Linked DNA regions of Homo sapiens. The protein of the gene in region 1 purifies or fractionates together with the protein of each later gene. This does not show direct contact. Each region holds a gene or a part of one and is shown on either strand. Other genes may lie near its edges.

Evidence for each region.
Region 2: the proteins of VAPA (region 1) and LSG1 purify together in Homo sapiens (co-immunoprecipitation; 5 studies listed by BioGRID and IntAct, with this or other methods). This does not show direct contact.
Region 3: the proteins of VAPA (region 1) and RAB3GAP1 purify together in Homo sapiens (affinity purification with mass spectrometry; 5 studies listed by BioGRID and IntAct, with this or other methods). This does not show direct contact.
Region 4: the proteins of VAPA (region 1) and OSBPL10 purify together in Homo sapiens (co-immunoprecipitation; 5 studies listed by BioGRID and IntAct, with this or other methods). This does not show direct contact.

What each region holds. Positions count from the first base shown.
Region 1 is NC_000018.10:9,930,981-9,938,016, forward strand, and holds part of VAPA (vesicle-associated membrane protein-associated protein A), read left to right. Parts: intron 1-829; coding exon 830-982; intron 983-5,129; coding exon 5,130-5,233; intron 5,234-6,005; coding exon 6,006-6,086; intron 6,087-7,036. UniProt on the Homo sapiens protein: Endoplasmic reticulum (ER)-anchored protein that mediates the formation of contact sites between the ER and endosomes via interaction with FFAT motif-containing proteins such as STARD3 or WDR44.
Region 2 is NC_000003.12:194,662,192-194,669,227, forward strand, and holds part of LSG1 (large subunit GTPase 1 homolog), read right to left. Parts: intron 4,382-7,036; coding exon 4,261-4,381; intron 4,099-4,260; coding exon 4,012-4,098; intron 3,453-4,011; coding exon 3,366-3,452; intron 1-3,365. UniProt on the Homo sapiens protein: Functions as a GTPase. May act by mediating the release of NMD3 from the 60S ribosomal subunit after export into the cytoplasm during the 60S ribosomal subunit maturation.
Region 3 is NC_000002.12:135,047,355-135,055,317, forward strand, and holds the start of RAB3GAP1 (rab3 GTPase-activating protein catalytic subunit), read left to right. Parts: upstream 1-4,937; 5' UTR 4,938-4,953; coding exon 4,954-4,971; intron 4,972-5,075; coding exon 5,076-5,131; intron 5,132-7,963. UniProt on the Homo sapiens protein: Catalytic subunit of the Rab3 GTPase-activating (Rab3GAP) complex composed of RAB3GAP1 and RAB3GAP2, which has GTPase-activating protein (GAP) activity towards various Rab3 subfamily members (RAB3A, RAB3B, RAB3C and RAB3D), RAB5A and RAB43, and guanine nucleotide exchange factor (GEF) activity towards RAB18.
Region 4 is NC_000003.12:31,660,325-31,663,298, reverse strand, and holds the end of OSBPL10 (oxysterol-binding protein-related protein 10), read left to right. Parts: exon of another isoform or gene 1-1,176; intron 1,177-1,182; coding exon 1,183-1,227; 3' UTR 1,228-2,474; downstream 2,475-2,974. UniProt on the Homo sapiens protein: Probable lipid transporter involved in lipid countertransport between the endoplasmic reticulum and the plasma membrane.

The DNA.
Region 1 (7,036 bases):
CCTTTATAATAGTTGTCTTTGATTCCAGCCTTCTAGCTTTTTTAAAAAATACATAACTTTAAACGAATTGTTTTTAGAACGATTTAAAATTACTTTTGGAATACTTAGAACTGTGGTTATTGTTCCCAACTGGAACATGTTTTTATGTTCTTCCTCCAAATTAACAGGTATTTATTTTGTTGTCTAAATTAATCTGCATAATTTTTCTTCAGGCTTTTCTTCAGCAAAATGGATCAGCCTTTTGGGTTCTTTGTTTTGTAATTTTATGTTGTTTGGGTGCAGAACCAAAGCTTAAAAACTTTGTATCTAGAGCATATGGCATAATAAACACTTAACAAATATGTGAATGAATGAATGGATTGAATGAATGAACAAACAAAATTGAGGTGAAGCAAAAGCACTGATGTCATAGGGTGTAGGGTCTTCAGATGTAGAGATTTTTGCAGTTGGCCTAGTAAAATGAACTTGAAGATTGACACTGGTTTGCAGACAACTGGGAAATTCTGTTATTTTCAGCAACGTATTAACAACATACTGTAAAAATACAGTTGTAAAGTTCATAGATCCAAAGTTTCATAGTACTTTTTTGATAGAAATCATACATGTTTATGGTAGAAATTTTGTGAAATACAGGGAATGAAGAAGAAAATATGACTTGTTTTTAAGTCTGCCACCTCGAGAAAGGCAGTGTTAGTAGCCATTTGGGATATTTATGCCTACAAATGTCAGCACTTAATTAAAATTGAGGTTATATATTTTCAGTTTTGAATCCTTCGTTGTTGAGAATCCAATTAAATTTTGTTTTCTCTTTAATTTTTAAACTTTACAGGCCCCTTCACAGATGTAGTCACTACAAATCTTAAATTGCGAAATCCATCGGATAGAAAAGTGTGTTTCAAAGTGAAGACTACAGCACCTCGCCGGTACTGTGTGAGGCCCAACAGTGGAATTATTGACCCAGGGTCAACTGTGACTGTTTCAGGTAGCAAATCATGTTCTGAATTTATGTACATTTGAATTTTGACCTTTTATGATTATGTTTTTGTTTAATAAGGTTTCATCTGGAGGGAGGGAAATAATTCTTATATTATTCTGGTTTTGCCTTTAAAGATGTCTTGTTACAGTACTCTGCAAGCTGTTTCAGAAAATTTCTCACTCATCTTCTGTGTAGGGAGTGTGGTCAGTTTATAAGAAATTATTGTCAATTACAAACTTTAGTCTTTATTTCTACAGCTAACCACTACCTTCTCTGCCTTTGTTATTTTATCTTTGAAAAATTATATCATTTTTCTGATGGGTCATTCTCCTTCAGATCATGATCATATTACACATTGCATGCAGCTATAGAAGTGTCATAATTCTTTTGCTTAAAAAGGTGCAATGCCACTTTTTTGCCTACTGTGTCAAATCAGATGAGTCTTTATGCCTTTCATTGTAAATGTCAACAGTGTCCTGTGTGTGAAAACTTTATTTTTATTTTACTACTCTCTTATGTGTTTACTTGTCAAAGAAGTATGCTTGCCATATATGGATTACTTACTCCTGCTGTGGAGTTGATACTGGTACCATATCTAATGCCCCCTATAAACTGTTTCTTTCTTTCTCAGTCCCTCTGACTTCACTAATATAGCTGAGAAATAGGAAATAGGAAGTAAATATGAGAACTTTTATGGTTCCATGTATTTTACTTAGGGGAGAACCTCTCAGGCTGCATTTACTCTTTCTTTACAGCAGTACTTCTCAACTCCCACTATATGCTGTAATAACACAGGGAGCAGGAACACACATGGATTCATCTCTCCCAGATTGGAATCTCTAGGAGCATGACTTAGAAATGTTACATTTAGGCCGGGCGCGGTGGCTTATGCCTGTAATCCCAGCACTTTGGGAGGCCGAGGCGGGTGGATCACGACGTCAGGAGTTCAAGACCAGCCTGGCCAAGATGGTGAAACCCCATCTCTACTAAAAATACAAAAAATTAGTCGGGTGTGGTGGTGGGCGCCTGTAGTCCCAGCTACTTGGGAGGCTGAGGCAGAGAATTGCTTAAAACCAGGAAGTGGAGGTTGCAGTGAGCGGAGACTGCACGAGTAAGACTCCGTCTCAAAACAAACAAACAAAAAAAGTGTACCTTAAAAAAAAAAAAAGCCTGGGTGATCTTGATAAGTAATCCTAAGATATTATAATAATTCTGTATCAGTTTTCAAGTCCACAGCAGAATTGGGTACAGAGAGAGAGAACCCAGGGTAGGCTCATTGAGAGAGTATTTAGAGGTGGAGCCTGACTACAAAGGCCATGAAGGACAGACCATAGAGTTCTTGGTGACACTAAATCTTCCCTCAGCAGGTATAGCCAAAAACCTCAAGAGCTAGGAAAAAGATGTTTTAGTGAGTCTTGCGGTAAGGAGGCCTGGGAGGAGTGCTTTTCATGTTTCTTTGCTAAGTCTAATTCATCAGTTCCTGGGAAAGAGAGATGGGAAATAAAGATGAAGGAATGCATGCACTCTGCATGTTGCTGCTTTCTACTACATCTTTAAGCCTTTAGCACAATTGGAAGAAGAGAGAATTCTTTCTTTTTTGAGACAGTGTCTTGCTTTGTTGCCCAGGTAGGAGAGCAGTGGTGTGATCTCAGGTGACTGCAACTTCCGCCTCCTGGATTCAAGTGATTTTCCTGCCTCAGCCACTTGAGTAGCTAGGATTACGGGCGTGTGCCAACATGCCTGGCTCATTTTTGTATTTTTAGTAGAGGCAGGGTTTCACCATGTTGGCCAGGCTGGTCTCGAACTCCTGACCTCAAGTGATCCATCTACCTTAGCCTCCCCAAATGCTGGGATTACAGGCGTGAGCCACTGCGCCTGGCCAGAAGATATAATTATTTCAATCCACATGGCTAAAAATAGTTTATTGGTACAAACAGTTATATCCCTAGGAATCCATACAACTATGCAGAATGACTTTTTCTTTGAGGGGCCTAGATTGCTGGTTTCTGTGTATTAATATTTCTTGAGAAAACAACGTATCAAAACACTTTCTCCCACAGAAACCTGACTTATTAAAACCTTCAGACAAACTGGTTACTGATTACGCAAACATGCCCTTGGATTGTTCTACTTAATTAGAATTTGGCTTTTCCAGTTTTTAGTGTAGTGTATTTCCATTTACAGTCACTCAAAGCTATGCTTCTTCCAACAACCTTCTCTGGTTAATTCTCTGTACTACATGCTCATTTCTCTTTTTCCCTGTGTCCTTTTGACGCTTTGTTTTTTGAATTTGCTTCAATTTGTGCACATTTTTATATATGTTTTCAAGATCGTCTTTGTCTTGTTATGTGGTCTGCAACCTAAATTAGAGTATAACTCCTATAAACTTAACCATGTTGTAAGTTTTCGTTTTATTCACAAATTTTTGGTTCATAGTGATTAGCTTATAATCATTAACTCAGTGAAGGTTGCTAATGGAATTTTATTTAGCTTAAGCTGTATTCTGAGGCATTTTATCCAGTACATTTCCTGCTGCTGTGTATTTGGCCCCTTGAAAAAGTTGTCTTAACCTTGATAGCAGTTAATGGACTTCTCAGACACACCTTATGAATAAGACTTTATTACATAATTATTTCTTACATTTATTTACCCGTGTTTATCTTTTTGAAAGTGTAGAGATATATCTTAGAAATAATCTAAAGTTAGGGAAATAATTTCTATAATGCCATGTACATATTTTGTGTAACTGTTGATTGATTCTTTGTATAGTCTGTTATATTGGACTCATGTTACATAAATTTAGCATGACTTACAACCACATGGAACCTTAGAAAACTTAAAAGACGAGAAATTATAAATGCTTAAAAATTGCTCACGCCTGTAATCCCAGCACTTTGGGAGGCTGAGACGGGCGGATCTTGAGGTCAGGAGATCGAGACCATCCTGGATAACACGGTGAAACCCCGTCTCTACTAAAAATACAAAAAAATTAGCCGGGCATGGTGGCAGGCGCCTGTAGTCCCAGCTACTCGGGAGGCTGAGGCAGGAGAATGGCGTGAACCTGGGAGGCAGAGCTTGCAGTGAGCCGAGATTGTACCGCTGCACTCCAGCCTGGGCGACAGAGCAAGACTCCGTCTCAAAAAAAAAAAAAAAAAAACTTAAAAATTTTGAATGTTATTGAGACTGTAGAATAAATTTTAGAACTCAAGAGGCTATATGGTTTCCTTGTGTACTTTTGTTTTCTTAGAAGATTTAAATAAATTCATAAACTCTGAAATAGATGTTTATTTAAAATACAATTTTGAAAAATTAATTATATTAAAACAATATATGGGCTGGGTGCTGTGGCTTACGCCTGTAATCCTAGCACTTCGGGAGGCTGAGGAGGGCGGATCTCTTGAGCCCAGGAATTCTATACCAGCCTGGGCAAAATGACGAAAACCCTTTCTCTACAAAAAAATACAAAAATTAGCTGGGCATGGTGGCATGTGGCTATAGTCTTAGCTATTTAGGAGCCTGAAGTGGGAGGATTGCCTGAGCCTAGGGAGGTTGAGGCTACAGTGAGCTGAGATTGCGCCACTGCACTGCAGCGCAGCCTCAGCCACAGAGTGAGACCCTGTTTTAAAAAACAAAAAACAGATGGTAGTGAGGTTTTAAGTTACTGAGTATTTCTCCTTTAAATATCTCAGTTGTATAATTTTAAATCAGAAAACACTAAAATGAAGCCTAAATTCATAGTTTTAATAACTTATATTTAATCTGAGCTTATAGGCATTATAGTTAACGTTGGCAAAGTTTTGAAAATTTTCACAAGCTGAGTTTAGAAAGGGCAAAATCATAGATTCATATTTAATTTTTAATTGTAATTGTTTATTTTGTTGGTTGTGCAAAACTTAGTAAATTAGAAAGACAGACAATTTAAAAATACTTGGGATCCATTAAGTTGATTCTTAAACATTCCAGTGTTTGGTTTCTTGAACCCTTCTTGGTTTTTTTTAAATTTGCATATTTGTGAAGTAGTAGGAATGATACTATTGCCAGATACGGTTTAAGGCAAATCCCAGACTTAGTATAATTTAATCTGTAACTGTTTCAATGTATGTCTTTCAGACATGCAGGAGACAATATAATATATCCTTTTTTTCTTATTTAGTAATGCTACAGCCCTTTGACTATGATCCGAATGAAAAGAGTAAACACAAGTTTATGGTACAGACAATTTTTGCTCCACCAAACACTTCAGATATGGAAGCTGTGGTAAGTATAGAAGAAGAATTTGTTTTGGGAAGTGGAGTTTAAACTGTGGGTGTTGTTTAGCAGTCAGTAGAAAAACTTAATTTCTAAAAACTAAAAGTTAAATTTAGGTTTTTAAAAAACTGCCAATTTCTTCATTATAGATAATCCTAACTTAAAGAATGAAAGAATTTTTAAATAGTATTTTTTTTTAGAAACAATTTAGAAATGCTGCTACTGGCCTGGTGCAGTGGCTCACACCTGTAATCCCAGCCCTTTGGGAGGCCAAGATGGGAGTATCTCAAGCCCAGGAGTTCGAGACCAGCTCAGGCGACATGACAAGACCCTGTCTCTACAAAAACAAACAAACAAACAAACAAAAAACAAAAAAAACCACCACAACAAAAATGAGCTGGGTATAGTGTTGGACGCCTGTAGTCCCAGCTACCCAGGAGGCATGGGAGGATTGATTGCTTGAGCCCAGGAGGGGCGACTGCACTCCAGCCTGGGAAACAGAATGAGACCAACTGGAAAAAAAGAAAGAAATGCTAAGAAGAAAGTCCTATGGTTGCTAGTAATATCATCGTGATTTTAATGGATGGTGATAGTAACTAGGATTATATAAAGGTTCTGTGACATTAGCCGATAACAATGGCAGGGTGATCAATAAAGAGTGCACCAGTGTGTTTCAGCCAAGCCAGGCAGCTTCACTCATCTTTTAGCTGTCCCGTGAGGTGAAACTTACTTACCATGATCATACCTCCTATGTCTCATGTTTGGTTTTGTTTATTTTTAGTGGAAAGAGGCAAAACCTGATGAATTAATGGATTCCAAATTGAGATGCGTATTTGAAATGCCCAATGAAAATGATAAATTGGTAAGTAGGAGAATGTAAAAAAAATTGGGAGCTGTTGAGCTCTCAGTTCCTTTGATTAATTTTGCTTTTATTTTTGACCTTTGAGGTATGTGTGATATGGCTATTACACTTCATAAGACTCAGTGGTTAAGTTTTAAAAAACTTGGTATGCCTTTTTTTTTTTTTTTTTTAAAGTAACATTTTGTTTATCCAAGAAGAAAGAAAGACTCACTTTTAGGTCAAGACTGCATCCTGGAGAAGAATCATTTAAGTCTACCAGATTTTTTGTGACGTAAACCACTGCAGGTTCTTTTTTAGAATGAGATGTGTATACATAATTTAAAAATACATATAAATTGCTTTTTGGCCACTATGTACCGGCAGTTTGGGGATAAATTCACTTACATGGACAGTTTATTCCAGGTTTAGTTATTCCTAGGTATTTTGCTCACTTTTGTTTTTAGTCAAATCCATCTGATTGTATTCTTTAGTAAATAATTATTATGTTGCTTACTCATTAGTGTAAGTCTAATACAATTTGGGGGACTGAGGGATGTATTTGTTTATTCAAAAACAAACAAAAAATAGTCTGTGAATGTACCGAGTGGGTTGTAGTCACTTACCTTGTCCATTTCCCTGTCTGGATTGCAAATTTGAATCTTTTCCTATGGTGAGAGAGACTTGAAAGATAAATTTTTCTGTGTGTGTATGTGACTTAATACATACAATAATATGGATAAATAGAATGGTGTGGCACAATTTGGTTACAATCTGACATGACTACTGCCTTAATCTAGTGGCCATTTGCTCTATTGAAAAGTAAACATGCAGATTAAATATGTGGGCTCAGTTATTGTGTTCCTCTTTCAGGATAAGCAGAAATGAAAAGGTCTCTGGTAATTAGGTGTTGACCAAATTATATTTTGAATTTTTAAAATGCCTCTTTTAAGTGATTTTTGAGGTATTTGCCA
Region 2 (7,036 bases), on another chromosome or scaffold:
GCTACCCTGTTCCATTCAGTGAGGCAACTGCAACCCACCACACAGCCCCCATTCCCCACCCCAATAGCAGAAGGCTAGGGTTTATTATGGAGAAAATGAACTTGACAAGTTCCAGGACTGGGACCTCAGGCACAGGGAAAATGGGAAAGAGTTGCCATAGGGCAAAAAGGGGAATTCAGCATAAGCCTATGAAGATACTGAACTGTGAAGGTGCCCAGCACCCTTGTATTATACCACCTCCTGCCCCTTTCCTGGCAGGAGATCATTCTTCTTTTTAAAAACTGACTGGCACTGGGCACAGTGGCTCATGCCTGTAACCCCAGCACTTTGGGAGGCTGAAGTGGGTGGATCACCTGAGGTCAGGAGTTCGAGACCAGCCTGGCCAACATGGAGAAACCCCGTCTCTACTAAAAATACAAAATTAGCCGGGCGTGGTGGCGCGTGCCTGTAATCCCAGCTACTCGGGAGGCTGAGGCAGGAAAATCGCTTGAACCCAGGAGGTGGAGATTGCAGTGAGCCGAGATCACGCCACTGCACTCCAGCCTGGGTAACAAGAGCGAAAGTCCGTCTCAAAAAACAAAACAAAACCACACACACACAAAACTGACTGGCTCTGGGGAAAAGACCTACAGATCTTAACATCTTGGGGTATTCCAACAAAATAAAACTGACCCCTGCCCAGGCACCCTACAGTGAAGCTCACCAGTTGGCAAATTCCACCTAAACAGGCAGGCTTGTCAACCGGCTTTGTAATGCTTTGTTCTTAAAGACAGATAAACACCACTAGACACCTGAGGAAGGCCTCTTCCGTAAAAGTCAGAAACCAGGAGAAAAAGAAAAGGAACAAAGAGGAAAGACAGATAATATAGGAAGTAGGACAAAATCTGAAAACAAAACAAAAACTGTAATTAAGTGTGAAGATGGAGGGTGCTGTCCTCAAGGTCCGGGCTGCAGTACTTCTGCACTTGTTACCATTTCTCTTCGGAAATTAGAAAACGGGCATTCTCAGGAGTACACAGCATCAACTACCAAGGAGGCACCAACGAAGAGGCTACTCTGCTCCACAGCAGTTCCCCAGTTCCCCAGGAGAATGACTGTGGGCCTTCCGAAGCCCTCCTCAAGCTTGAGTAAAAGGAGCCTGCATGGACCCCAAATCAGCAGAAACCCTTTCCCTTCTTCCGCCTCAGAGAAAGCCTTTCCCTTCTTCCGCCTCAGAGAAAGCCTTTCCCTTCTTCCGCCTCAGAGAAAGCCTTTCCCTTCTTCCGCCTCAGAGAAAGCCTTTCCCTTCTTCCGCCTCAGAGAAAGCCTTTCCCTTCTTCCGCCTCAGAGAAAGCCTTTCCCTTCTTCCGCCTCAGAGAAAGCCTTTCCCTTCTTCCGCCTCAGAGAAAGCCTTTCCCTTCTTCCGCCTCAGAGAAAGCCTTTCCCTTCTTCCGCCTCAGAGAAAGCCTTTCCCTTCTTCCGCCTCAGAGAAAGCCTTTCCCTTCTTCCGCCTCAGAGAAAGCCTTTCCCTTCTTCCGCCTCAGAGAAAGCCTTTCCCTTCTTCCGCCTCAGAGAAAGCCTTTCCCTTCTTCCGCCTCAGAGAAAGCCTTTCCCTTCTTCTGCCTCAGAGAAAGCCTTTCCCTTCTTCTGCCTTAGAGATTTGCCTTGCTTCTCTGACCTCCCCGCATCCCAGCCCAAGAGCCCTTTCTGTACCCGTAGAGAGCTGAGGATGGGGGCATTCAAGTGACTTTGTCATCACCCTAATAGGAAATGTAAGTGACTTTTACAAGTTTAGTCCAAGTACTGTTTTCTTTTTTTTGGAGACAGAGTCTTGCTCTGTCACCCAGGCTGGAGTGCAGTGGTGCGATCTCGGCTCACTGCAACCTCCACCTCCTGGATTCAAGTGATTCTCCTGCCTCAGCTTCCCAAGTAGTAGCCAAGCCTGGCTATTTTTGTATTTTTAGTAGGGACAGGGTTTCACCACGTTCCTCAGGCTGGTATCGAACTGCTGACTTCAAGTGATCCACCTGCCTGGACCTCCTAAAGTGCTGGGATCACAGGTGTGAGCCACCGCGCTGGGCCCTGTTTTCTTAATAACAATGCTAAATGTGATAAGATTCTTTTCTGAGAATCCCAATTAAAGCATTCTGTTTCCTAGTGTTCTTACTAGGTTCACTTTATAGATTTCAAAGGAAAAAAAACCAGCCTGAAGGGTCCTTGTTGAAAACATTTCAAATATAAGGTTCATTTATGGCATCCTTGAAAGTAATTCAGAAACTCTTTGAGGAAAACAGAAACCTTTTAACTATACCAAAGAGGTGAGATTAGAGACAGGTGTTCATCAACTTCTAACAATCAGGAATTCTCCTTAGCATTACATGAAAAAGAATAAAGATCTCCCATTCTCAATTTGTCAAAATCATTCTCTTCTTTTCAGAGCCCAGTTAAAAAAAATAAAAACCAGGCCGGGCATGGTGGCTCATGCCTGTAATCCTAGCACTTTGGGAGGCTGAGGCGGGTGGATCACGAGGTCAGGAGTTCGAGACCAGCCTGACCAACATGGTGAAACCCTGTCTCTACTAAAAATACAAAAAAAAAAATTAGCTGGGCGTGGTGGTGTGCGCCTGTAATCTCAGCCACTTGGGAGGCTGAGGCGGGAGCACTGCTTGAACCCAGGAGGCGGAGGTTGTGGTGAGCTGAGATCGTGCCATTGCACTCCAGCCTGGGCAATAAGAGCAAAACTCCGTCTCAAATAAATAAATAAATAAATAAATAAATAAAAAACATAAAAACCACCCCGTGATTTCCTCAATACTTATCAACCACTCCTTCCTCTGCTATGACTCAGCCCACTGCCTTTCTATCTGCAGCAAAGCAGGAATCATACTGCCCTCTGTATTTCACTACGTATTAAGTTTTCTGAGTGCAAGAATTGCATGTCATTCATCTGTGTGTCCCTGGTGCCTGGTGCTTTGCTTAGCATTTAGCTGAACATGGTGTAACTCGGCTGACAGGAGCTCTGACATTCGCCTCTCCCCATAACATAGATGCTCTTTGCAGGCAGGAACTTAACTCTTTTTCGTATCCATATTTTCCACATTACCAGTAGAAACCAAATATACATTTGCTAAAATATCTATATAGGTGCTTCAGAATTCACCTTGCAGAAAATGTTCATTATTCTCACACACTTATCAACATATTCATCTAACAACAAAAAAACTATACAAAATATACGGTAGTATCATGCTGTGTTTTTATAATTCTCAGTAACCCTCTGCATAGCTTAATTCCCATACCCTGAGCCTATAAGCCTATATCAACAGCCAAATCGAATATAACTTCACTACAATGTCTTTATTACACAAAAGAAAATGATAATTCACCTTCTCTCAATGACTCTCCAGAGCTGGCGCCAAAAGTCCAAATTTCGTTCAAATGGAGTCAATATCAGCTTCTGTTCCTCTTCTAGCCTAGTTTTTGAATGAGAAGTTTATATATTTGCCAGATTATAATAGACAATTTTTAGCAGTGTAAATGCTCAAATTTATTACATTAAAAATAAGTACTGGGCACAAATATCCAGAGTCAAATTATTTTATATATTTCCTGCTGAGACACCATAAAAATACTATTTATTTAGACAATACTCCACCAAATTCAAATTTTATCCTGAAGCTATTTATGCCCTGGAAGTTTACCTATCACACAAAGTCATTTCTTTCCCACACTCTTACTGGAAAAATGTGCAGGAGAGCAGCGATCAACTCCAGGATGCCCAATGGCCAAAGAAGGGAATGAAAGGAAAAGGCCCGGAACTGAGCAGAGTAACCAACTCACGATCTCTGTGCAAGGATGCATTTGCACCTAGCAATCTTGTTTGTGCATACATCTATTTGCACTTGTTAGCAGAATGCTACCATTTCCTTCTTAAAAGAATCAAAACTTCAAAACACAAATGGCTGTGTAAGCATGCCAAATATCTGAACTCAGGATTTCAAAGTAAGTCTTCATAGAGTCTATAATACTCACCGGACAAGCTGACGTCTCCATTCTAGAAAGTTATCTTTCTCTGCTTGTTTGAGTTCTTCTGGGGTAGTATTTTGGTTCCAGTTTGGTCTGAAACAATCATAGAAGGAAAAAAATTCCTCATATAAGTAACCAAAATAAAATAGGTAATTTGGATCTAATAATGGCAGCTGAGAAAAAGAAGCAATTTAAAAAATGAATACTCAGCAGCCTCGGATGTTTTGTGGCATTCTAAATTCTTCTTCAGCTCACCTCCTCGGTATACACAAGAACTGTTTGTTTTCTTCATGGAGCTTCTTAATTCTCTGGCTCTCCTCGAAAGACAGTAGTCCAGTTCTAGCCTCAGCAGGCACAAACTTAATATTAAGTTTCTCTGTTCAAATAAAGAAAAGTACTATTACTTAAGAGGCAGTATAGATACAGAGTGTTTGGTCATACTGATAAACTGAGAAAACTAAAAATGAGAGCCTAAGAGAACTTAAGATTTCTTGATTTAGATTCTTCTAGCCTTGGGTAAATTATTATTCCCAAATGAAGTTTTATACCAAATAACTATCCAGAGTTACTACATTCTTTTTGACTGCCACACAGTATTTCATACTGTGTCTATATCACATTTTCCCTGCTATTGAACATTCAGTTTCCAAGTTTTCATTATTAAAATACAGCATCATCTGGTAGCTTGTTAAAAATGTAAATGCTGCAGCTCTAACCCCCACTCACTGAATAGATGCTCTGGAGTCTAGAGGATAGGGCCAGGAATCTGTATGAAAGAGTTCTCCGGGCAATTCTGCTGCTCTGGGGTAGATGCTGAGAAGTAGAGGTGCTGGCTCATAGGATATGAAACTGTAAACTTGCTTTCTTTGTCTTCTGTTTTTTTTTTGAGACAGAGTCTCACTCTGTCACCCAGGCTGGAGTGAAGTGGCACAGTCTCGGTTCACTGCAACCTCAAACAATTCTCCCAACTCAGCCTCCTGAGTAGCTGGGACTACAGGCCCGCACCACCACGCCCGGCTAATTTTTGTATTTTTAGTAGAGACGGGGTTTTGCCATGTTGGCCAGGCTGGTCTCGAACTACTGACCTCAGGTGATCCGCCCGCCTCGGCCTCCCAAAGTGCTGGGGTTACAGGCATGAGCCACCGCACCCAGCCTGCAACTGTAAACTTCGAACAGATACTGCCAAAACAAATCTTTCCAACTTCCCTCTCTACTGTCTCACCCCATAACCTAAGAACATACTACCATTAACCCTGATCCTTCTCATACACACCCTTACACTTCTCTTTCCCTGCCATAGTCAGCTATCTCAGGAGAATACAACTTGCTCATTCCTTGATTTCCTCACCTCCCACTTCCTGTTTCTCTAGATTCCAGCTGTGGCTCTCTCACTCCACTAAAACTGTTCTGGCAGATATTACTAATGACTTTAAGAAGAAAATAGCAGCCAGGTGCGGTGGCTCACGTCTGTAATCCCAGCACTTTGGGAGGGCAAGGTGGGCGGATCACAAGGTCACGAGTTCGAGACCAGCCTGGCCTACAAGGTGAAACCCCCGTCTCTAGTAAAAATACAAAAATTAGCCAGGGGTGGTGGTGCATGCCTGTAATCCCAGCTACTCAGGAGGCTGAGGCAGGAGAACCGCTTGAACCTGGGAGGCAGAGGTTGCAGTGAGCTGAGATCGCACCACTGCACTCCAGCCTGGGCGACAAGAGAGAGACTCCGTCTCAAAAAAAAAAAAAAAAAAAATATATATATATATATATATATATATAGCTTTACTACAATATGATTCACATACTATACAATCCACCCACTAAAGCATACAATTCAATAATTTTCAGTATATTCACAGAGTTGTGCAGCCATTGCCACAATCCATTTTAGAATATTTTCATCACTCCAAAAAGAAAGCTTTACCCATTAGCAGTCACTGTACACCCCCAGGTACCTGGTGGAAATCATCTACTTTCTGTAGATTTGCCTCTTTAGGACTTTTTGGTGTTTCCACTTTTTGGTGATTACGAATAATGCTGCTATGAATACACATGCACATATTTTTGTGTAGACATGTTTTCATTTCTTTCGGGCATATACCCAGGAGTGGGACTGCTGGATCAGATGGTAATTCCATGTTTTACCTTTTGAGGAACTGCCAAAATTTTTTTATAAAACAGCTACACCATTTTATACTCCCACAGCGATGTATGGTGTTATAATTTCTCTACATCCTCACCAACATTTGTTATAGTCTCTTTTATTTTAGCTATCCTAGTGGGTGAAGTGGTTATTTCACTGTGAAACCCAGGAGTTTATTTTTGTCCCTTCACTCTTTTTCACTTACACTACCCTCTCCATCAAGTCTGGTTTACTCTAGCTCCTTAAGTGTTCTTGTTCCTCTTATTTTCTCCCTTCTTCTACTACCTGTATTTCAGTTCTGGCCTATTTTGCTAGACTAAAGTGATACAGTCTCCTAACTCATCTTGCTTCCTTAAAATTCATCAGTGATCTTTTAAAAAATGAAATCTCATGTACCCATGAGACATACCTGCACTCCCATGTTCCCTGCAGCGCTATTCACAAGAGCCAAGATATGGAACCAACCTCAATGCCCATCAACGTATGAATGGATAAAGAAAACGTGGTATATGTAGTATACAATGGAATACTATTCAGCATTACAAAAGAGGGAAATGTTGACACTTGTGACAATATGAATGAACCACTCTGCTATGAGAAATAACCCAGGCACAGAAAGACAAATACCACATGATCTCACTTATACGTGGAATAAAGCCGAGCTCATAGAAGCAGAGAGAAAATGGTGGTTACCAGAGATTAGGGAGTGGGGCAAATAGGAGGATACTGGTCAAACGGTAAAGTTTTACTGAGGCAGGATGAATAAGTTCTGGAGGTCTAATGTACAGCCTGGTGTCCATAGTTAATAATAACACATTTATTAGTTAATAATATGAAATTTGCTAAGACAGTATATATCTTGTTCTCACCGCACACACAAAAAAACAATGTGAG
Region 3 (7,963 bases), on another chromosome or scaffold:
GTTGTACAGCCCAAATAATTTTTCCTTTTAAATTTTGTCTTTAATTAAGCTGGTCCTGCATGCACAAACCCTTTAGTTAGCTGCAAATAGACTGCTTAGTTTACAGGTTGTCTCCTAGGCAACCATCCACTGTGCATTTAGCTTAGAGAATTGAAAGCAGGACAGTCTCATCCAGGAAGGAAAACAAGTTTTGTATGCTCTTCCAAGTTGTTGCTTAAGTGCTTTAAAACTACCAAACCCCTATGTACTTCCATGGTTGGCACAATTACTGTGATCACCTGATGCACTGAGACTTTCTCTAAGAGATCCATGCCTTTGTAATCCCCACAAGGTGCCAGAAGGGCCCCTTTCAAAGCTGCATATAGGTCACAGAGTGAGAATCCAATCGATTACCACCAAACTGATTGCATTCTTAGACTCAGCCTTGAGAAAGCGCTAGCAGACAGAAATCCTTACATTACAACATACTTCTTCTCTAGATATGCTTGTGATATTCTGAAGCAAAAGCTTCAGTAAACAGACTGCATTTTTGTCTGAGTCCAGTGGTAATAAACCCAACTGCAAAAGACTTCAAATCATGGACTATGAAAACATAATCATGAGGAAGTGGACACAGGGCACTCCATAAGGTCACCCGGCATTTGTGTGCTGCTAAATTCTTTTCTGCCACTTACCAAAGGATGCAGGGGTTTCTCTTCTAAGGTAGGGCGTAACATTATATATTCTCAACTGAATGGGGTACGATATTCTATCGCAATAACAACAGCTGACATTTATTGACTAGTTCCTACGTTAGTCCATAAAGGACATGATTAATGTCATTTAACCCTCATAACAACTCTATGGAGTTGAAACAATAAACAGCATCATTGCCACGTTACAGAAGATGACACTGAGGCTTAGAACTTTTGAGCTAATGAATGGTGGAGCTAGGGATTGAACCTAAGCGGCCTGGCCACAATGTTGCAATACTACCTTTACCATGCGCAAGCACGTACACACACACACACACACACACACTCTCTCTCTCTCTCTCTCTCTCTCTCTCCTTTAGTGGATGAAGACTTCAGGGTAAAAACCATTCAGAGATTGTTAGATCTACGTAAACTCCCTCATTACCAATTCAACTTCAAGCTGCTTGACACCAATTTAAGCACACACAGGCTATTACTCTGTTTTGCTTCCTATGCTCTACTTTGCTTCTACTCCCATCAAGGTGAGTACTCTCTCAGCCTAACAGAGGAAGGTGCAAGTACCGTAGTTTCTGACTTTTAGGATTTCTGCCAGGTTATCCTAGGGTTCCAGCTTGTCTGCAATCCATGAATCTTTAAATTGGCTTCTCAAAAAGTAATCCTGGCCAGATGTGGTGGCTCACACCTGTAATCCTAGCACTCTGGGAGGTTGAGGTGGGTGGATCACCTTAGGTCAGGAGTTCCAGACCAGCCTGGCCAACATGGTGAAACCCCATCTCTACCAAAAATAAAAAAATTAGGCCAGGCGTGGTGGCTCACACCTGTAATCCCAGCACTTTGGGAGGCTGAGGTGGGTGGATCACGAGGTCAGGAGTTCGAGACCATCTTGGCTAACACGGTGAAACCCCGTCTCTACTGAAAATACAAAAAAAATAACCGGGTGTGGTGGCAGGCGCCTGTAGTCCCAGCTACTCGGGAGGCTGAGTCAGGATAATGGCGTGAACCTGGGAGGCGGAGCTTGCAGTGAGCCGAGATCGCACCACTGCACTCCAGCCTGGGCGACTGAGCAAGACTCCATCTCAAAAAAAAAAATTAGCCGGGTGTGGTGGCTAGTGCCTGTAATCCCAGCTACTCGGGAGGCTGAGGCAGAATTGCTTTGAACCCAGGAGGCGGAGGTTACAGTGAGTCGGGATTGTGCCACTGCACTCCAGCCTGGGTGACAGAGTGAGCAAGACTCCGTTCCCACCCCCCCCAAAAAATGTAATCTTCTGGCTATGCGCAGTGGCTCACGCCTGTAATCCCAGCACTTTGGGAGGCCAAGGTAGGAGGATTGCTTGAGCTTAGTTGTTTGAGACCAGCCTGAGCAACATAGTGAGACCATGTCTCTGCAAAAAATAGAAAAAATTGCTGGACGTGGTGGTGGGCACCTGTAGTTTCAGCTACTCAGGAGTCTGAGGCAGGAGGATTGGTTGAGTCCAAGAGTTTGAGGCTGCAGTGAGCTATGATCATGCCACTTCACTCCAGCCTGGGAAACAGAAAGACATCCTGTCTTTAAACAAAAAAGGAATCCTCCTTTTGTCTCTCATTTTGAGATAGAGTCATTCAAACCATTCTCTTTTTCAAGAAACTCAATGTTTAGAAATAGTGGAGGGATAGGCATACAAAACAAGGACAATATCAGGCTGCCCTAGGGCTGTGTCAAAAGCTCTAAGGAAGCATGGAAGGGGAGTGTCTGACTTCCTGGGTTGAGGGTGGGGGATGTATGTTTGCCTAGGGCTGCTTGAACAAAATGCCACAGACTGGAAGGCTTAAACAACAAAAATTTATTTGCTCACAGGGCTGGGCGCCGTGGTTCACACCTGTAATCCCAGCACTCTGGGAGGCCGAGGAGGGTTGATCACCTGAGGTCAGGAGTTTGAGACCAGTCTGGCCAATAAGGTGAAATGCTGTCTCTACTAAAAATACAAAAATTAGCTGGATGTGGTGGCACATGCCTGTAATCCCAGCTACTCAGAAGGCTGAGGCTGGAAAATTGCTTGAATCTGGCAGGTGAACGTTGCAGTGAGCCAAGATCTCACCACTGCATTCCAGCCTGGGTGACAGAGCAAGACTCCATCTCAAAAAAATATTTTTTTATTTGCTCACAGCTCTGAAGACTAGAAGCCCACGACCAAGGTATCAGCAGGTTGGGTTTCTCCTGAGGCCTCTCTCCTTGGTTTGCAGGTGGCCACCTACTCTCTGTGTCCCCACATGGCCTTTCCTCTGTGTGTGCACATCCCTGGTGTCCTAATCTCTTCTCATAAGGACACTAGTCAGATTGGATTAGGGCCCACTCTAGCGGCCTAATTTTAACTTAATCACCTCTTTAAACACCCTGTCCATAAATACAGTCACATTTTGAGGTACTAGGAGTTAGGGCTTCAACATATGAATTTTGAGTGAGAATCCAATCGATTACCACCAAACTGGTTGCAAATACAAATAAGCTCCTAACAGGGGGCAGAGAAAGTCTTCACAGAAGAGCAAATATCCAAGCTGAAACTTGAAGGACAAATTTTACCAGGTAAACTATAGACACAAGGACATTGCAGATTCTAAACGACAGCATGTCCAGAGGAAAGAGAAAGCACAGGATGTCGAAAACATTGTAGGTGCATGTTAAAAGAGGCTGTCTATTAAAAGAGAGTGGCAGACACAAAAGATGTGCTGCTCAGACCTCCCTTAAAGAAAGACTCACTGCCCAGCTGTAAGGCGTGTGGTTAGATGAACAGCCTACGGCTGTTGGGTTTATCAGGTTTGTCTAACTGTTGAGCCAAGGACCTGCTATTCTTGGAGTGCTTCCTCCAGCCAAAAACTGAGCAAACAGTGATAGCCAAGGCCACTGTTTTCTTGGGGAGATCCTGGCCAATGATTGACGGAGCAAGGCAGTAGTACAAGGGGCTACGCATTTCCTGATGCATAATTTTTGCCCTAGCACTTCCAGTTGGACTTCAGAGACTTCGCCAGCTTGGAATTGTAGTGTCTGCTTTTTTAGAGCACCAGTCTGAAAAAAAAATAGTGAAAAAGCAAGCTGCAGAGTGGGAGAAGGTATTTGCTACATATATAAACAATATAAAGCTCAGATGCAGAATATATATAAATAACTTGAAGGTGTTAAAATAAAGACAAGGCCAGGCACAGTGGCTCACACCTGTAATCCCAGCACTTTGGGAGGCCGAGGGGGGCGGATCACAAGGTCAGGAGATCGGGACCATCCTGGCCAACATGGTGAAACCCCATCTCTACCAAAAATACAAAAATTAGCTGGGTGTTGTGGCGCATGCCTGTAATCCCAGCTACTCGGGAGGCTGAGGCATGAGAATCACTTGAACCCAGGAGGCAGAGATTGCAGTGAGCCGAAATCGCGCCACTGCACTCCAGCCTGGCGACAGAACCGAGGTGGGCAGATCATGAGGTCAGGAGATCGAGACCATCCTGGCTAACACGATGAAACCTCATCTCTACTAAAAATACAAAAAATTAGCCGGGCGTGGTGGCGAGCGCCTGTGGTCCCGGCTACTCGGGAGGCTGAGGCAGGAGAATGGCGTGAACCCGGGAGGCGGAGCTTGCAGTGAGCCAAGATCGTGCCACTGCACTCCAGCCTGGGCGACAGAGCAAGACTCCGTCTCAAAAAAAAAAAAAAAAAAAAAAAAAAAAAAAAAAAAATGAAGCGTTTGTTGAACACCATGTTGCTCTTCCCAGAAACCAGGTAACTAGTATGATTTTATTTCAGGACAATCAACTGAGCAACTTCTTGCAGGGTCAGGGGCAGAGGGTAGAAGTGGTATTACAGCACCTAGTTTATTGCCTTACAATCAATAAATAGAGGGTGAATGAAAAGAAACCCAATAGTTAAAGTGTAAGCTAATTGGTACTAACTACAAATATGGGTTGAATGAAAACAAACCCAACATGCTTTAGGTTTTTTAATACAATCTTATCCACATGAGTTTAGGGTCTTGTCCTATCACCTTGGCTTCTGTTCCCTTTCTGTATTCATCACAGGAAATTTTCAAGTTTTATGAAACCAGCTAGAGCGGAGTTTTATTAACCAGCTGAGGGCGGACTAAAGACTTAACAGACCTGGGCGAAGAAGCAGCACTCCTACTTACTAGGGCAAGACTCATGAACAGGGGGCGGGGGCTCCGGGGGCGGGGACGCGCCCCGTTCTCTTTCGCTCTTCTTCCCGGCAGCCTTAGCGCCAGGCCCGGCGCTCCTCAAGATGGCTGCCGACAGTGAGGTGATTTCTTTGCTCCCTACTTAATCCTTGTCACTATCTAAATTCGTTCCTCATGTCTTCGCCTTGGGGCTTAATTTCTTTTTCTCTCCTTCCCCTTCCCGCAGCCCGAATCCGAGGTATTTGAGATCACGGACTTCACCACTGCCTCGGAATGGGAAAGGTGAGTGAATCGCATTTTTGGTTACCAGCTCCCATGGGCCCTGGCGTCCCCTAGCCGCTTCCCTGACCCCAGACACACCACAAGTGACGCCACTTGTGCGGGAACGGTAATACCGTGGGTCCCGGGTCTCCTCCCCCAGTCTTCTTTGGTCAACCGCAAGCCTCTTCCGCGTCTCGCGTCTGGCAACACCCGGCCCGCCCCCGTCAGCCAATCCCTGAGGCTCAGGCTCTCAGAAAGTTTTGTTTTCTCTCCTGTCAGACCGCTTCCCTTAGACTTTGGTTTTCTGGTTGTTACCCACTCGCAAGAAAAATTTCCGAGGCTGCAACAACCGTTCCGGTTTTCATTACCGTTTAACTCATTATCGTAAGCAGTAAACTTGGTAGGTTGTGCCGCACCTCATCCCGTGTACGTTGGTATACCCTTTTCAGGAGGAAGTCTTTCTTCAGAGTATTGGTAGTTGTCCATCTGTCACACTCCCACCATCTCCATGCTGTCTTTAATTTTTTATTTTTATTTATTTTTGGAGACAGAGTCTCAGTCTGTCCGCCCAGGCCGGAGTGCAGTGGCGAGGTCATAGCTTACTGCGGCCTCGAACTCCTAGGCTCAAGTGAAGCTCCCGCTTTAGCCTCGGGAGGAGCTGGGACCACAGGCACGCGCTATTACGCCCAACTAATTTTTTAAAGATCTCGCTGTGTTGCCCAGGCTAGTCTTGAACTCCTGGGCTCAAGCCTGGGCCGCCCAAAGTGCTGAGATTACAGGCGTGAGCCTCCGCCCATCCTGTCTTTTAGAATAACCTTTTTAAAAAGTCTGCATATGGTTTTGGAATGCTTTGATTTAAGTTGTTACATTAAAGTGGGTACTGTGCCCAGGCTTCCTGTGCCTGTCAAATTCAGATGAACAGCTGTCTGGGTGAAACTGTTCTATTACTGAAATTAGTTGAAAGCCAAGTTTGTGGAGGAGTGATAGCTTAGATCGAGAAGGTTTCTGTTAAGTGTCACAGAAACCCTTCAGTTTCCTGGGTGTTGAAGTCAGTGTTTACGCTGTTACAGCATTTTATAATCTTTCTGGTTGGGAGAGGAAATTTGTGGATGTCGTGTCATTAGGTGGCACAGGAAAATATAAAAGGTCCTTGTTGGAATAATAGTTAGACCTGTGGTACCCTTCATAAAAGTGTCAGTAAGACATAACCACACTGGCAAGACTTCATTGAGTAGGTACTGGGTGTCCAGAGCTATATACAAAGGGAAAAGCAGAAACTTGACCCATATATTTTTAAAAAACAACAAACAGCAAATAGTTAAAATGTAAGCCAGTTGGTACTACCTGTAAAAATAATAATTAAAATAATTATTATTTAAATAGGGGTGATATTGTGGACTACAATAGTTGGAGATATTTTCATAGAAAAGATAGGAAATGAGCTGGGCCTTGAAAGTGGGAAGTGGTTGGTTAAACATGAGAATGGACTGACATGGGTAGAGACATAGGTGAGAATGAATCTTTGAAGGGACTGAATGAAGAAATATATCTTCACTAGAGTGAAGACTGTCTATTGAAGGGAAATAAATAAGGTTAACAAGGAAGACGGGATTGGGTTATGGACATCTTCCCAAACTAAATACAGGAATCCAGATTCAGTATTCCTATGACCAGTGATTCTCATACTTTAATGTACATCAGAGTCTTAGATTGCTGGGCCCCATCCTCAGAGTTTCTGATTCTGTAGGTCTGAGGTGGGACTGAAAATTTTGCTTGTGTAACACGGTCTCAGGTAATTCAGATGCTGCTGGTCAGGAGACCACACTTAGAAAGAACCACTGCTTAAGACAATAGTGAGAGACCCTTCGTTTTAGAGTGGCCAGGTGATATGATGAAAGTGGTTTTAGGACATGATGTAGAATAATGGTGGGAGACTTAACTTGATTCATAATTAGGATGGTGATTTGTGGACTGGAATACAAAGGGAACCTAGAAGGGAGGATTGTAACATATTTCAGAGAAGATTTAGGTAATAAACTTGATGATACGTTAAAAGTGGGAAAAATCAAATGTGAACTGTAGTTTTTTGCCTGTAAGAATGAATGTAAGGAAGTGTCAAAGTGAGAAGATTTGAACCTGTTGATTTTGAAATAATTTGATGTCTTGAAGGTAGTTAGAAAAATGTAATTCAAATCTTGGAGGGTGGGGTAGGGAAACATCAGTTTTGAATGGAAAAATGATCACTTTCCCCTAGTTAAAAATATCCTGAAGTGGAATATTAAGTCCTTTAGCTTTGCATATGGAAATAATTATTAACACCGTTATAAGAACTATTGCAAAGTAGAAAATTTGGTTTTTGGCTTTTACACTGTAGTGTGCATTTTACAATTCATGAGAGAAAATGTTAAGACTTTGAAGTCTCAAACCTTGAGTTTAATTTTAAATGAAAGATCTTGTGAGTACAATATGTTATGAACTATATAGATAATTTATTGAGAGAACTGTATAGAAGCCCATAACTCTTTTTATCATTTGTTCATTGACAATATTTATTGAATCCCCATATGTCAAGCACAGTGCACATTACGGATTTAGGGATGTGGTGGTTAGTAAAACAGGTACGGTTTCTGCTTTTACTAAATGTGCAGTCTAGTGCATTACAGACACAAATCAAGTAATACAAGTCTGTAATTATGAGTTTATGTAAGAGCTAGAAAGGGAAAGAAACCTGGTCTTATAAGAGCCTATAACAGAGGGACCTAATATAGAATAAGGAATCAGGAAATGACCCTTCATTTCCTGAGAGCTTTTAAGGAAAAAATTACTTAGTTTTTCTAGTCAAATCTCAATACT
Region 4 (2,974 bases), on another chromosome or scaffold:
GTCTAGTTGTTCATGAGGAGCCAGAAATCTAAATTTTTATGAGAAATCTCATATTTGCATGGTCAAAGATTTAAAAAAATTTAAATACCAGTAGGCAATCAAAATGTATCTGTGGGCTTTCCTTAGCCCAGGTGCTGGTAACCCCTGACTTCTGCTACAAAGAGGGATTATTCTGTCTATATACGAGGCTGAGAAGTGAGTTAGGGCAACATAGTAGGTAACTGGGGTGGATTCATGGTTAAGAGCAGGAAGAGCAGGAAGCCACCACTGTTCTCCCCAGAGTCAGGCTGTGGACTGAAGGAGATTTCAAGGTTGGATTCTGGTTCAGACAGGAAAGCTGCCTGGAGAAGACTTTGCCTTTATGGGTCACTGAGTGGGGACCCTGTGTGGGAGCCCTGCCCAGGTGAGGTAAAACCTTGAAAGATCCTTCTGTGAGGTTAGCTCCCTTTTCTCTTGAGGGAGCTAGTAGCTTGAGAGAGCTAGTTTGTCTGGCTTCTGTGGAAGGCTGTGCATTAAACAGCAACAACAACAAGAAAAAACATTTACAGTTCTTCCTGAGTTTAAGAAAAGCCAGTATGCCCATAACAGAAGGGCTGGGAACATGTAAGGAATAAGAGTCATCTGAACACCAGCACAGTTATTCAGTATAGTGCCTTCTAGTCATAACTAGATGGTATTAATACCATTTTAATTCTTGCCTTTTTCTCACTTGATATTTGATTGATGGTGTTTCTTGTGTGTGCTGATTTGTTTGTGACTACTGCCTGCTGGAGAGAGCCTTTGTTGGGTGTTCCCCTGTGGGCTGGAAGTCACTGGTATGCACACCCTTGCCTTTTCTTTCCCCTGGCCATTCATCTAGCTACTCTCCTTTTCTCTTGTCCCACTGTCAAAGTGCTTCTTTTTTTTGGCCAAGTAATCAGTCTCGATGGAAGCCAACCAAGCTCCCCTTTTATTTTGCTCATTTCTTGGGGTTTCCTCCTGCCATGCCAGGGTAGGAAGGTCAAGGTCATCTAGATCTCCAAAGAGCAGCTGGGCTGAGGAGGGGTACTGAGGCCAGCAGCCTGGCCTGCGTGTGAGGTATTAAGACACGGCAGACACACAGAGTGGCTGCGGTTATCCTTGCTTCCCCTTTTCCCTGTTGAGAGGTCTCCATGTAATAATGCCTCCTTTCTTCTCTTGCAGGGCGATGGCTGGGTATACTTCAATCCCCTCTGGAAAGCACACTGATGGGGTGGAGGTGCAGAGCTTTCCAGTATAGCCCTGTTTTTGTAGGAATATTAAAGTAGTAGAGTATCAGGGTTTTGTTGGCATTCACTGAGACCTTGTATTAGCATCCAAGAAATGATGAGAGAGAGAGAAATTATATACTATGAAAAGTGCACCCCCACACTCTGCTAGAGGAATGAATTTATTCAAGAGCCATTCGGGGCACGTGTGTGTACACACCGTATACGTTCACACACATGCACTATGTAAACATCTGAGTATGATTACACATTTAAATACTGCACTCACCAAGGTTAAAGTGGGTAATCATAAGCTCCTTTTTATCAATGAAGTTTGAAGTTTTTCTATTTTTCACTTTGCCAAAAATGTTTTACACTCACAAAGATATTCTCACTTAGTCAACTCCTGTCAAAATGAAGGTGAACTGGCATGGCCCGATCACTGTCCATAAGGGAGAAAGTGGCTCATTCCTGGTAGAAGTATGGGTGGTTATCATTTCAAAATTATTGTGATTCTCACCTCCCTCCCCACCTCAGTGTTTTGTCTGTCCGCGCCCAAGAAAGATAAGCAAGTATTTCCTGCTGGATGGGGGTTGGCAGGAAGCTGTTAAAGATTTATGCCAGAGCCTTGCAGGATGGAGCACCTCTGGGACAACTAAGAGCCAAGGCCCACCAAGGAGTTTTCCACCCGTCTCTCATGGTCACAGCGCTAGTCATTCATTTTTGAGAAGTTGCTTCTTTTACATCAGAAAACCAGTCAATCATATGGAGACTTCTTTTGTGATGAAAAAGGGCTTTAGAAGTTAAATACATGCATGCACATGAAAACATGCACAACCACAGCCTCAATCTTGTATTTAGTTTGGGGAAAGAGAAGAGAATTTCCTGTGGATTATTTTTTCCTCAAGTGCACCTCTCTGGTTAACCCAAACTCTGCAAGAAAGCACTGTGACTAAAACATACATAACGCCTGCATAAATATTCCATGGTTTCAGTTAAATTTCAGTTTTTAGCCTTTACACATGAGGTCAAAGGAGTGACGAAAATACAAAGCAAGGAAAAAATGAAATATCTGGTTTTTGCTGAATGCTTAATTTATTTTTTACTGTGCCACTCCAATATTTATCAAATCCAAATAGCATGAATGCTTCTCTGTAGTAATACTAATTTTGTGCCTTTTGTCTGCTTTCTTAAGACCAGTTGTTCACACTTTGTAGATATTAGACAAATATATTTCGATTGAATACATATCTGTGTCTGTGTTTTATTTTCAGGGATTCAACAGTTCTATTAAATTGGTGGCTCTAAGTGAGCTCAACTTTTCCTGGTTAAATATTTCTAGTTATTGATATGAAGAGCAATCATATCTATATGGAAAAAGTATTTAACACATTTAAAAATGTACCAGATAAACATTTATGAATATTTTCTGGTAAGTCCATAAGAACATTTAACTCCTACCCAGTGAGTGTTGTTTCACGAGAAGAGTCACTGCCAGAAGTCACAATAGAAGCCTACTTAGGTCCACAGTCTTTAAAGCATCTGGGTGAATCAAGTATCTGGAACCATCTTATTTCTGACAGAGAAAGTGGAACAAATGCTATTTTGAGAAAAAGAAGAAAACTCAACTCAATGAGACTGAAAAGTAATCACTGTGTTGTTGGATTTTCCAGTCTGACTACAAAGCATAAACCATCTGGGAAGTAAAACATGGAGAGGGCTCACTTTTCTTTTGAGGCCAGGGGTAC